2 linked regions of the Homo sapiens genome follow. The protein of the gene in region 1 purifies or fractionates together with the protein of each later gene. This does not show direct contact. Each region holds a gene or a part of one and is shown on either strand. Other genes may lie near its edges.

Evidence for each region. Proteins that work in one complex are often made in the same cells at the same time.
Region 2: the proteins of SLC22A5 (region 1) and HMGCS1 purify together in Homo sapiens (affinity purification with mass spectrometry; 2 studies listed by BioGRID and IntAct, with this or other methods). This does not show direct contact.

What each region holds. Positions count from the first base shown.
Region 1 is NC_000005.10:132,365,807-132,372,710, forward strand, and holds the start of SLC22A5 (organic cation/carnitine transporter 2), read left to right. Parts: upstream 1-3,903; 5' UTR 3,904-4,166; coding exon 4,167-4,559; intron 4,560-6,904. UniProt on the Homo sapiens protein: Sodium-ion dependent, high affinity carnitine transporter. Involved in the active cellular uptake of carnitine. Transports one sodium ion with one molecule of carnitine.
Region 2 is NC_000005.10:43,296,394-43,303,418, forward strand, and holds part of HMGCS1 (hydroxymethylglutaryl-CoA synthase, cytoplasmic), read right to left. Parts: intron 2,583-7,025; 5' UTR 2,573-2,582; coding exon 2,125-2,572; intron 1,742-2,124; coding exon 1,616-1,741; intron 774-1,615; coding exon 609-773; intron 1-608. UniProt on the Homo sapiens protein: Catalyzes the condensation of acetyl-CoA with acetoacetyl-CoA to form HMG-CoA, which is converted by HMG-CoA reductase (HMGCR) into mevalonate, a precursor for cholesterol synthesis.

The sequences.
Region 1 (6,904 bases):
CGCGTGCCACAATTGGCTAATTTTTGTATTTTTAGTAGAGACAGGGTTTCACCATGTTCCTTAGGCTGGTCTCAAACTCCTGACCTCAGGTGATCCACCCTCCTCAGCCTCCCAAAATGCTGGGATTACAAGTATGAGCCACCGCACCCAGCCTATTCTTTTCTTAAAGGAGGAGGCCTTCCCTTCCTCAGGCAAGTAATTGCTGACTACTCCAGCCTACATAACGTCCAGACATATCCAAATCTGTGGAGAACACAAAGTTCTTAAGGTATTTATTTAGAGTCAATAATCAAAGTAAAACTAATAATTATAGCTAATATTTAGTTTGTAGTTAATATATGCTAGGAGCTCGAGCTAAGCACTACCATCCCAGGAAACTGAGGCTTAAAACACTTTTAAAATTTGCTCAAGCTCACAAGCTTGGAATTGAAGAAGAAAGCAATTGAATATTGGTCTTTCTTCTATCATACATCCAGAGGCTCTGCACTTAATCAATACAACATACTGTCTCTTATTGCACAAGTAACTACAAGGTTCATCTGTAAAATTCTATTCTGTAGAATAGAAGGGAAAACAAATTAAGGAATTACAGATGTTTATTCTTCTGAGCTTTAATTTAACGTATTGTTTGATTCAAATAATTTATATATTAGCTATCTATTGCCACATAACATAATACCTCAAAATTTACCATTTTAAAACAACCAACATTCATTATTTCTCAGAGTTTCTGAGGATCAGGAATCTGGGAGCCACTTAACTGAGTGGTTCTGGTCCAGAAGACTCTCATGAAGTTGCAGTCAAGCTGTCAGTAGTCATCTCGACACCCAACTGATGCTGAAGGAGCTACTTCCAAGCTCACTCAAGGTTGTTGGTGGGCCTCAGTTCCTCATTAAATGTTGGCTAGAGACTTCATTCCTTGACATCACATGGACCCCTCAAAGGGCTGCTTATAACATGACAGCTTGCTTGTCTCTGAGCAAGAGAAAGGGAAAAGAACACCCATGATGGACATCTTTTATAATGTAATTACCCAAGTGATATAAGTATCATCACTAATGCTGTATGCTTTTGGTCACATAGACCAATCCTGGTACAGGGATCATTCATTGGGTGCCATCTTGGAGGCAAGCTACCACATCTGCCAGGGTATGAATGCATTTAATCTAAAGTTCTAGCCCTGAACTGTAGGGTTATCTACCATATAAATCAGTTTTACATTTTTTAATATGTAAAATAGGAACATCCCAATTCAGAATATTGCAGGATAAAGGGCCTCAGGTAACTGATTAAGATTCTAAGCTCTCTTTCTCTTTTAAAAGATGAAATTTAAGGCTGGGTATGGTGGCTCCTACCTATAATCCCAGTACTTTGGGAGGCCAAGACGGGGGGATCACTTGAGGTCAGGAATTTGAGACCAGCTTGGCCAAAATGGCAAAACCCTGTCTCTACCAAAAATACAAAAAAAATAGCTGGGTGTAGCGGCGCGTGGCTGTAGTCCCAGGCACTTGGAAGGCTCAGGTGGGAGGATTGCTTGAGCCCAGGAGGTTGAGGCTGCAGTGAGCCAAGACCACCTCACTGCACTCCAGCCTGGGTGACAGAAGGAGACCCTGTCTCAAAAAAAAAATGCAATTTAAATAGTAATGGCATTCAGATAGTAATCACAGTGCACCTGGAACTGGACGGCACCATCTTAGGTTGCTCTCTGCTTTGCGCATGTGGACAAGCCATCTATGACAAATAGTTTCTTTTCTTCCTAAGGATATGCAGCTTCTTTTGTAGTATACTGCATTGTTTTCAGTCCCTTTCAGGAATGTTATCTGATGCCCAACTGATATTTCTCAAATGTTAAAATAAGACTTCTTCATCTTGTTTGGTCTGGACAGAGGTCAACATTCTTCTCATAAAAGCTTTCATTTCTTTTGAAGCATTAAAATAATATTTTAGCACACAAAAAAGGAGTTTATTTTCAAGAAGCTTTGCTTTCTTTTTCAGTTAGTTCTAGATAAGAACTATAACTTCACATAAGATGTTAGAAGGATTTAAGTACATTGCTGAAGGTATAACCATCCATCTTCAGGAAGTAAGAATAGTGAATAGTAAGTATAAAGAAACAAACAAGTCCTGTGATAACATCTTTATCATAATTTTTTTAAGTCTATTATGCTTTATGCAAATGTTTAGATTTCCTTGTTAAAAATCTGCTGGCCAGGTTAGGTTCCCTTTCTGTAGCTTTATTTTCAACTCATAATATAGTGACTATTAAATATTCTTTACTCAACACATTATATTGTAAAAATATACACTTAGTTCTGTTTCTATCACTAAGCCACTACTATTTTAAAAAGGAATATCTTGCATTGTTAAGTTTAGCAGCCCAAATTCTTAAAGGCCTTAGGAATGGTGCTGTCCAATAAGATAACCAATAGCTACATGTGGCTACTGAGCACTTAAAAAATGAGTCTGGCCAGGCATAGTGGCTCACGTCTGTAATTCAGCATTTTGGGAGGCTGAGGTGGGAGGATTGCTTAAACCCAGGAGTCTGAGACCAGCCTGGGCAACACAGGGATGCCTTGTCTCTGTAAAATAAAAAAAATAAAAAAATTAGCTGGGCACGGTGGCATGTGCCTGTAGTCCTAGCTACTCAGCAGGCTGAGGCAGGAGGCCCACTTAAGCTTAGGAGTTCAGGGCTGCGGTGAGCTATGATTGTGCCACTGCACTCTAGCCTGGGTGACACAGTGGGACCGTGTCTCCAATAAATAAATGAATAAATAAATATTAAAAAATAAAAAGTGTGGCTAGTCCAAATTGAAATGTGCTGTAAAATACACACTGGATTCCTTTTTTTTTTTTTTTCAAATCCTGAGAACCTGTGAAACACACTGAATTCTTAAGATTTAGTATGAGGAGGGGAAAAAAAGATCAATGATTTACATATAACAATGTAAAATATCAATAATTTCTATATTGATTATATGATGAAATGATCATGTTCTGGATATACTTGATTAAATATACCATTAAAGTTAATTTCATCTTTTATTTTTACTTTTTAAATATGCAGCATTGCCCAATAAAATACAGGACAACCAGTTACATTTTTATTTTATATATTCCTGCTTGGGACATAATATTTAAAAATTATTCATTCTATATCTGAAATTCAAATTTAACTAGGAGTCCTATATTTTTATTTGCTAAATCTGGCAATTTTATTAATATGGCTACTAGAAAAGTTAACATAACAAATGTAGCTCCTTATCCTATGGAACATTGCTGCTTTAGAATCACCTCGCTGCTTTTTTTTTTTTTCCAGTTAGCTTCTGAATAAACTCTGCACGGAAATAACTAATCTGTGGGGAATATTTAACCCTAGGCTAGGATCGTTAATCGTGAAGTTAAATTTTTACATCTGCATGAACAAAATGGCTTGTTACAGACGAAAATGTGGAAAGGGCATCTGGACTAGAATGAAAAGTCATAGCTCCCAGCCTCTCTACTAGGGTAGTTAACAGTCCCAGGTTCAAAATAATCCCCGTCCCTCTTATAAGATTAGGCGGTGTCAAGAGCAACTATCTGTGAGACCCTGGGCCAGTGACTTTCTCCTTACCTCCGCCCCCAAGTAGGCCTTGCAAAAAGCTGGGAGGGGTGCGTTTTCAACACTGGAGCTTCGCGGCCGCTCTCCCACTCGCTCCCCGCCCGGCGCTAGAGGAGCGAGTTCGGACTCGGACCCCAAGGCCTCGAGTCCCGCTGCCTTCCTAAGCCGAGCCCGGGCTACCTCGGTCGTCCCCAGCAGGCTTGGCTGGCAGAGGCCGGGCCTCGCCAGGTCCCCAGGACAGGCCCCGCCCGGGCCTCAGGTGCACTCCCGGCCCGCCCCGCGCCCTCGCGTCCCGCCCCAGCTCCGCCTTCGCCGGCGCCGCTCTGCCTGCCAGCGGGGCGCGCCTTGCGGCCCAGGCCCGCAACCTTCCCTGGTCGTGCGCCCTATGTAAGGCCAGCCGCGGCAGGACCAAGGCGGCGGTGTCAGCTCGCGAGCCTACCCTCCGCGGACGGTCTTGGGTCGCCTGCTGCCTGGCTTGCCTGGTCGGCGGCGGGTGCCCCGCGCGCACGCGCAAAGCCCGCCGCGTTCCCCGACCCCAGGCCGCGCTCTGTGGGCCTCTGAGGGCGGCATGCGGGACTACGACGAGGTGACCGCCTTCCTGGGCGAGTGGGGGCCCTTCCAGCGCCTCATCTTCTTCCTGCTCAGCGCCAGCATCATCCCCAATGGCTTCACCGGCCTGTCCTCCGTGTTCCTGATAGCGACCCCGGAGCACCGCTGCCGGGTGCCGGACGCCGCGAACCTGAGCAGCGCCTGGCGCAACCACACTGTCCCACTGCGGCTGCGGGACGGCCGCGAGGTGCCCCACAGCTGCCGCCGCTACCGGCTCGCCACCATCGCCAACTTCTCGGCGCTTGGGCTGGAGCCGGGGCGCGACGTGGACCTGGGGCAGCTGGAGCAGGAGAGCTGTCTGGATGGCTGGGAGTTCAGTCAGGACGTCTACCTGTCCACCATTGTGACCGAGGTGGGTGCCGGCCCCTGCTGGGGCTGAGACCAGGGCTCGGAGGACCTGTCGCGGTCCTTGAACCCGAGCTCCTCTCTCCCAGATGCGCACTGGACGCTGTCACTCCCCCTCCCCCAACGGTCAACACCCTAGCGATGGAGACCCTCCAGCCAGGTGGCTTGGGAACGCTTCACGAGGTGACCTCCAGCCACAGTGTGCTCCTCCCTGCACAGGTGGTCAGTCTGGCCTCCCGTCCTGATGGCCACTTTGAAGAGGGTACCAGGAAGGTCCTGGCGGTCCCTGGGCGATGCTCTATGGCCCTGTGTGTCCAGGACTTACTCTAGTTGGGGTTGGGGGTGGTAAGTAGCAGAGCCAGGACTTGGGCCAGGGGCTATCCCGTTTTTCCTCTAGTCTCTTGATTTCTTTTTAGAAGAGAAGAAATACTTCTCTTTCCTGAACTTTTAAAAGTTAAATAAAGCATGTGTATACAACTGCCTCTTCCCTTTTTCCTCTAGTTACTCCTTCCCCTACCGTCCACAACCCAAAAACGACAATCTGGTCATGCCCTGTAAGTAATTGTTTGCCTTTTCCCATGGTCAGTTGTCAGTCTTTTTTTTTTTTGAGACAGAGTCTCCCTCTGTCACCAGGCTGGAGCGCAGTCGTGTGTTCTTGGCTCACTGCAACCTTCGCAGTCGTGCGTTCTTGGCTCACTGCAATCTTCGCCTTCCGGGCTCAAGTGATTCTCCTGCCTCAGTCTCCGAGTAGCTGTGAGCCACGACGCCCAGCTAATTTTTGTGTTTTTAGTAGAGACGGGGTTTCACCGTGTTGGCCAGGATGGTCTCGATCTCTTGACCTCGTGATCTGCCTGCTTCTGCCTCCAAAGCTGGGATTACAACCGTGAGCCACCACGCCAGGCCGTCAGTTGTCACTCTTTAAGATCCATTCATCTGAAGATGGGTTCAGGGTGACTTGTTGACCTGGAATATTTTCTCAGGTATTATGAGGCAAGGCTGTCGGCCAGATTTAGTTAAAGCATACAGCCTTAGGTCATAGGGTGTAGGGGAGCCTTTCTCATTTCTCATCCCCTTGGATTTTCCCTCTGGGTGGTTTTGTCTGTCCCCTCCGAACCTGTTGGAGCAGTTGTTGGAGCTGGATGTAGGAACATGATGTTAATGATGTATGTGTTTTGTGTCTTTTTTAGACACTGGCACTCTAGCTCCCTGAAGTTTCAGCAGCATTGAGTAAGTAGCCAGTGAATAGCCCTCATTGATAGATAGGCTCACTAAATGTGCAGATGACCAATTCGCAGGTTAGAGAAGGCTTCCCAGAAGAGGAGGCCTCTCCGTGAGCCTAGGGTGTTCAGCTCAGCATAATAGTGAGCTGAAGGCCCCAGTGCAGCAGCAAGAAACCACCCAGCAGGACGGCGGAGTTCACAGAGAGGGGAGAGTTCATAGAGAGGGAGAGTGCCACAGGCCCTGGCACAGCTTCAAGCCCTGCTGGATGTTGGTGCTGAGCCTCCCCTCCTGGAGCCTCAGAGGGGCTTACAGGGGCTCTGGAGATCCCAACTGTGTTGCTTCTTGGCGTCATCACCCTTCAATGGAGTCTGAGAGCTACCCTGGGAGATCCAAGTGTGTGTGCATGTGTGTGTTTTTTCTTTTTGGAAATTTGATGTCCCCAGCATTTGGACCTGCTTTCTCCACATATATGTAGTGGGAGTGTGACCGGAGCCCCACTGGGATTTCTTAGCTAGTGACATAGCTTCAGTGTCCAGAGGCATCATGGCTTGACAAAAGAGGCACTCCTTGGAGGTAGCCAACTGTGCTTTCTGGCCCATGAATCCACAGGAAATTGGAACCTTCAGTTGCCACAAATCCTGGGTCCTAGCCTCACAGGTGGGTGTGTTACCTTCCCGGAAGCCAGTGAGTACTATGAAAGCAGAGGCTGTCCCTGAGGTTGCAGGCAGAGGCCACAGAGGGGAACATGACACAGGAATCCCTACAAATTCTACTTGGGGCTGCCTAAAGAAGAGGGAAGTAGTGAAGCAAGAAGAAGCACATGGCATCTCTTGGAGTTTTACATTGACCCCTGAGGGTTCCCCGGCTTACTCTAGTCACTTGTTCCTGCTTTGCTGCCTCCATCCCACATTGGGCTGAGTGATGGTGGCATTGATGAGCTCCCAAAGGCCAGCTGTGCCAGGGGGTCTGACCTTATCTTGCTGCCAATGTCAGCCTTTTGTTTTTTAATATTTAGACTATTTATTTAGCTGTCTTAGCAGTTTCAAAGGAGTTATGTGCCCTTTCACCTACTTATATGTTGTCAGTCTTTGCAGGGAGGCCAGATTAATGCTTAGATCTTTGTTTTGGGCT
Region 2 (7,025 bases), about 89 Mb from region 1:
CAGAGCGACTAAATTCACTGATATTTGTCATTGAATATGATTTTTAACCCCTTCTCATAACCTCTAAAAAGCAAAGTTGGACTACAGAAAAAGTATACTTTATGTAATAATGTGTTATGATAGCATTAACTCAAATACTGTCCTTTCAGTGCCTCAACAAATTTCCAGATTAATGATAACAGTAAAAAAACAAATACAAATTCACAGGTCAAGTGCAAAAAGATTATTTTTGGGGTAAGATCACTTTAGTAATTCATTTTCATTAGCTTTCCCTGAATCACAGCTGTAGTCCAAAACCTTGTTAAAATACCTCTCTCAAAAGATGAACAAAATTCAACTTACCTTCTTTTCTCCACTTTGATTTTCTTACAAGGGGTAAACCGACCTAAATATTTTTGCAGAGATACACCTCAGTTCCAAAGTTTACCTCTTCTAGTAAATTACACTTTCCCAGAAACTATGGGAAAATGTTGTTTGGTGAATGAGGAATTAATGGTAAAAGGATATTAAATGAAGAATGCCCACAAAGTAGTTGCCTACCAAAGATACCTAGTACATTAGACTGCTCTCAACTCATACCAAAACCAAGGAAAATGGGTAAAACTTACCTTTCTGCCACTGGGCATGGATCTTTTTGCAGTAGACAGAATAGCAGCGGTCTAATGCACTGAGGTAGCACTGTATGGAGAGTTTTCCATCTACTATAGGATATTCAGATAGCATATCAGGCTTGTAAAAATCATAGGCATGTTGCATATGTGTCCCACGAAGCCCTATTAGAACCAAAAAGGAAGATGTCTATATATTTCTGCTTCTTGATGTCTGTATGTTAATAAGTATACTGCATTATCTAAGGACCTTCCTTAACTATCTGATCAATTCTCACCACTTACAGTAGAGAAATCGCAAGCTGAAGCCAATATAAGTGAAATGATACATAACAGTATCCATGGACAGTCCTAAGACTCCTTTGGTATACAACTTTCCATGTCAGTTTCATAACTCTAACAGTTCACAGTTACTCTACTACACTGAAGACAAATTAAAATTGCCAGTGACTATCAGCAAGTTACTATTTATCATTTGAACCCTACATTAACCCACTTCTCTGTAAAGTGGGGATGACACCACCTACCTCATAAAACTGCTATGAAGATTAAATACAGGCCAGGCATGGTGGCTTACGCCTGTAATCCCAGCACTTTGGGAGGTTGAGGGGGGCGGATCACCTGAGGTCAGGAATTCGATGCCAGCCTGGCTAACATGGTGAAACCCTGTTACTAAAAATACAAAAAATTAGCCAGGCATGGTGGTGTGTGCCTGCAATCCCAGCTACTCAGGAGGCTGAGGCAGGAGAATCACTTGAACCTGGGGGCAGAGGTTGCAGTGAGCCGAGATCGTGCCATTGCACTCCAGCTTGGGCAACAAGAGTGAAACTCGGTCTCAAAAAAAAAAAAAAAGAAAAAAAAACATAAATATGATAACACACATAAAGCTCTTAGCAAGTAGTACCTGCATTTAATGACCATTAAGTAAGCGACAGCTCCTACTTCTATTTTCAAATTTCTCAGCATATTGTGCTAAAAAAAACAAAAATGCTTTCCCAAGCACTTACCTCGTTCAAAAATTAAAGGAGCATTTGGCCCAATTAGCAGAGCTACTGCTCCAACTCCACCTGTAGGTCTAGCATTTCCTGTGGCATATACAGCAATATCTCCTGCAACTACCAGGGCATACCGTCCTGAAAAATATTTTTTGTTATTTCACAAGAAGGAATTCAACACTATAACCAAACATGGAAACTGAAGTCTGTTATATTTTCCCCAGAATATGCTTTTCCCTTCTTTGATAAAGAAAGAAAATGCTCTAATTTTTTTTTAAAATTCATCTGCCAAGGCTCTGTCATCCATCTGACTAAATTTTGAATAGACCATTTGTCCTACAAGATAAGATAACCAATTCACAATTCGGATAATGACAGACAGGTAAAATATCTTTCTTAATATATCCAAACAAGGACAAATTACAAAAGTTTGCGTATTGCATTAATTAAAGTGTCATCTGGGTCTATTGAACCTTAGAAAAAAATTTTGGGGGACGGCGGGGAATAGGCATGTAACATACCATCCCAAGAGCTGGACTCAATCCAGTTAACAGCATTGAAGACAGCAGCTGTGCCTCCATAGCATGCATTAGTTGTGTCGATTCCTTCTATATCTGTATTCCCAGACTCTTCAAACAGCTGCATCAAATTAGTCTTCACAGACTTTGATTTGTCGATGATTGTCTCTGTTCCAACTTCCAGCCGCCCAATGCAATCATAGGAAAGGTTATTTCTCTCCATAAGATTCTGAACCACAGTCATGCAAAGAGAGTTAATATCTTCTCTATCTGTGCAGAAGCCCATCTTGGCCTGGCCCAAGCCAATGGTATACTTTCCAGCATCTACACCATCATATTTTTCCAACTCTGCTTGATCAACATATTGAGAAGGAAAATAGATCTCAAGGGCAACAATTCCCACATCTTTTGGCCAGCAAGCTTCTGCATTCAAAGGAAGTGATCCAGGCATGGTGAAAGAGCTTTAGAAAGGAGAAACAGAAAAAAAATTGTTTTAGGTTATAAGTTGCTGGTTTTCAACTTTGAAATTGAGAAATAGATATTAAGAGTTTAGCAATCACCTGAAGTATTAGTTTCTTTAAGTTTAGTATTTAGGGCACTCAATTGTGTACATGTGAAGTAGCAATTATTATATGAATGGAATATTATCATTTAAAATTATAGTCTTTTAGAAAGGCTTCCATTTTATTCAAAATTGGGCATCTCTAGATTTAAAACATGATTATTAGAGGTAAACAACACTCAAATAAGATTTTCTACATTGTAAAGAACTGTAAGATAAAATACAATGATAATTTAGAAATATGGCTGACAAATCAGAATTACCTGACCACCCGAAAGTTTTAATAAATTAGGCCGGGCGTGGTGGCTCATGCCTGTAATCTCAGCACTTTGGGAGGCTGAGGCAGGCGGATCACAAGGTCAGGAGATCGAGACCATCCTGGCTAACATGGTGAAACCCCGTCTCTACTAAAAATACAAAAGAATTAGCCGGGCGTGGTGGCAGATGCCTGTAGCCCCAGCTACTCAGGAGGCTGAGGCAGGAGAATGGCGTGAACCCGGGAGGAGGAGCTTGCAGTGAGCAGAGATCATGTTACTGCACTCCAGCCTGGGTGACAGAGCAAGACTCCGTCTCAAAAAAAAAAAAAGAAAAAGTAAAAATCAATCAATCAATCAATCAATCAATCATGTATTCATCATAGATAAACCAGTCCTCTTTTAAAAAAGGGACTAAAAAGTAGTGTCTAGATTTACTTACCAATAGCAACAAAAATCACTAGCTACTCAAGACCATTGTTGGGCATTTAACTTACCAGAGCTTCAGCTTCTTTAACAGGTTGTATTAGTCAGGAAAAGAAAAATTACTATAGATATTTCAAACAGAGGGGAGTTTTAATGCAGGGAAATAGCTACAAACTTGTTGGCTGGGCTGGAAGAACAAAGCGGAAAAGGTGGTTCTCTGATCCCATGAGCCTGCACTCCTGCTGAAGCTGCTGGAGCTACAGTACTAGTACCTCTGCTGCTGAGCTGGAACCCAGAGACCCAAAGTCCCACTGTTGGTGCTGCCACTGACAAGAACAAGAGAGGTACCTTCTTCCCACCTTCTAATATTTCTTGAGTACTTCCAATATTTCTTGAGTACTTCCATCAGCCCTCTAACCAGAACCCAGATGGCATAAGAACCAATGAAATGTAATTGTGAGGCTTTGAAGAGTGGCACAGCTCCTCAGTTTTAGAGAAAGAATCCTAAAACCTAAAATTCTACAACTCAATTTCCTTTTTAGGTATGACATCATTGGATGGTGCTACTTAGGTGGCAGAATTTCATTGACCCAAAGGTCTTGGGTTATGAGTTACCTGGGCCGAACTGATTCATGAACATTCTGTATGACTTGTTTGTCAACCCATCACTAATTTGATACTTAAAAATGAAAGTCAAATCCTGTATTTATGTCATTTGTCCTCTGCTGCTCTGCAATTAAAGGTCTTAAGGGGCCAGGTGCAGTGGATCATGCCTATAATCCTAGCACTCTGGGAGGCTGAGGCAGGAGGATCACTTGAGCCCAGGAGTTCAAGACCAGCCTAGGCAACATAGCAAGACTCTGTCTCAACAAAAAAAATTTTTTTAAAATGAGCTGAGCATGGTGGTGCATGCCTGCAGTCCCAGCTACTAGGGAGGCTGAGGTAGCAGGATCACTTGAGCCCAGGAGTACAAGGGTGTAGTGAGCTGTGATTGCACCACTGCACTCCAGCCTGGGTGATGGTGAGACCTTGTCTATAGAGAAAGGAAAAAAAAAAAAAAAAAAGAAAAGACTTAAGGGATACCAGTTGTATCTTCCTTCCAAACAGAAGAATCTTTTTTTTTTCTCATTCATCCAACCAATGCCAACATGTTACATACTAAACATTAGGGATGCTTAATGGGAGACTTCCTTATCCTCTCGAATATTCACTATTTTATGGGACAATAAGAGAAAAACACATAATAATAAACAGGTAACAACATTGAGAACCACATTATATAATGGAGAACTACCTAACCCAGCCTGGTGGTAGGGCAAGGAGTGTTAGGAAAAGCATCCTGGTTATAGGGGCCTGACTTGAGCCCCAGGAATGGGTAGGAGTAAGCAGTAAAGCACTGAAGAAATGGAGGGTAGTAGATTTTCAACAGAGTGGACACCATGAAGAAAGGCAAGCTACAAGGAATTACAAAAAACTTTACTTGTCTATTGGAATGAAATGTGAGCTGAGTGGATCAGGTAAATAATAGATTAGAATAACTAGGTAAGGGTTAGGTCATGAAGGTTCTGGTATGCTGATGTTGAGGGCTTCAAATTTATCATGAAGATAGTAAGAAGCCATCGGAGAGTTTAAGGAATAACATGGTGATATTAGTTGTCAGGTCAGTGTTTTTCCAACTCCGGAATCAATTTAGTGGATGGCAAGCACACATTTAAAAAAATGAAACAGAAAAGAATACAAGATATAAGATTGCATGGCACAGGGTAAATGTAAAGATTTTTCTTGAATCAACCTTTTGTTTTAATTATTCATACATATATAAAGTATACATAAGTTGCAATACAAAGTGTATTTTTACTGGGGGCCACAGTCAAAAAAGTTTGACAGCCACTGTTTTATCCTCACTAATGCTGTTTTACAGTCACTGGTGCTGTGAATGGATGAGTTAGGAAGCTGACATGGCAGTCCAGATAAGACATGGGTCATGAACTAGAGCATTTACTACATGTGGAGCGAAGAGGAACAGCCTCCAAAAACATGGAAAAAGCAAAAGAACTGGCAGAAACTGTAACTGACTAGATGTTAGGGAAAGAAGAAAATGTATACAATGACTTCCAGATTTCCATCCTCAAGTGTTTTATGACTTGACAAGCACACTGTCAGATACACTAAATGAACAGAGATCCTCTCCACTTTGTTCTACTCCACTTCTTCCACACAAACCCTGTTTACTTTATGCCCTTTTCCCTGGTAAGTGGAGTTCAGCCAAACCAGCGCTCAGAACCACCACTGAGGAAGTGAAGAGATCAAGCTCAGACAAGCTGCTTTCGTTCCTGTCATTTCACCAACATCTCCATACATTTTTCCAGTTTGGTTTTCCTATCTACTTCCTTCCTATATGGGACTTAACACAAGATTCTTAACTTTCATGTATGCAGTTTATACTAGAAAACACACAAAGAGAACTACACTGAAGTCAACATTAAGGATAAATGCTAAATACTACCCAATCTTTCCCCATCTTACAACTACTTACCTACATAACCCTCCCTCTACCCTTTACTCTCAAATTATTATATTCTTTATCCAAAAACATTTAGTGCTTTCTTCAACAACCCACCTCGTGCTTCTGCTTATTGAAATCCTTTATAGCCCTAGATCACATAGGTCACATTTTACCCATGAAACCTTTCTAAATTACCTTTTGCATTTCTTGCCTATCCTTCTACATCATCATACTTCGTCAATTAAAGTCACTTTTTTGGGTAACATTTCAGAAATTGGGATTCCTCTTACAATTGCTATCAGACAGAAGCCAATTATGATGTTGTCATTGCTTACACATGGGAAAATAACAAAACTGCCAGCATGACATTTGCATATGACAGTCAACAGCCTGAAAGAAATTCCCAGAAATGATACTGGAGCATTCATTTCACCCTCTAGGAACCAAATGGACTGGGAAGGAAGTAGAAGATGGGGAATCCCTAAGCAGCAGTCAAAGTAGGCTGGCTTTGCATAATTGCAAAGCTGAAGGCCAGCACCAAAACCTTCGCATTCTTTTTTGGGATCTTGAAAGGAATGCTACATCACCAATTCTCTTGGCGGCACAGAGGATGTTTAACGGAAAATTACAGGTATTAACAACTCTGACTCCAAAAACAATTCAGAAGGCAGACTCTAAATATGTGAAATTTAGCAATTCCTTATGTGTTTTTTCACTTGTGTTTTCCATCTTATTGAATGTGCAAGTGACATATGACAAAAATCTATGTCTAACTCTAAAAGAGCTCTTTAAAAAATTCTAAGTAATCAAAAAAGCATTGTATCTTAATTTAATTGGCAATGAAGCATCTTAAATTTATTACATCCTAGATTCTTTAGATAGTACGAAATATAGCATTCAGTGCTTCAACTGTGTTACTTCCCAAATATCTGCCTGAATTATGGATTGAAATGTCTGGGTTTCCCCACCAAATTCATATGTTGAAGCCTTAACTCTCAATGTGATGGCATTTGGAGATGGGGCCTTTGGAAAATAATCAGGTTTAGATGAGGTCATGAGAATGGGGCCCTCATGATGGGATCAGTGCTCTTATAAGAAGATAAAACGAGAGCTTGCTCATGCTGTCATACTCTCTCTATGCCATGTGAGGACACGG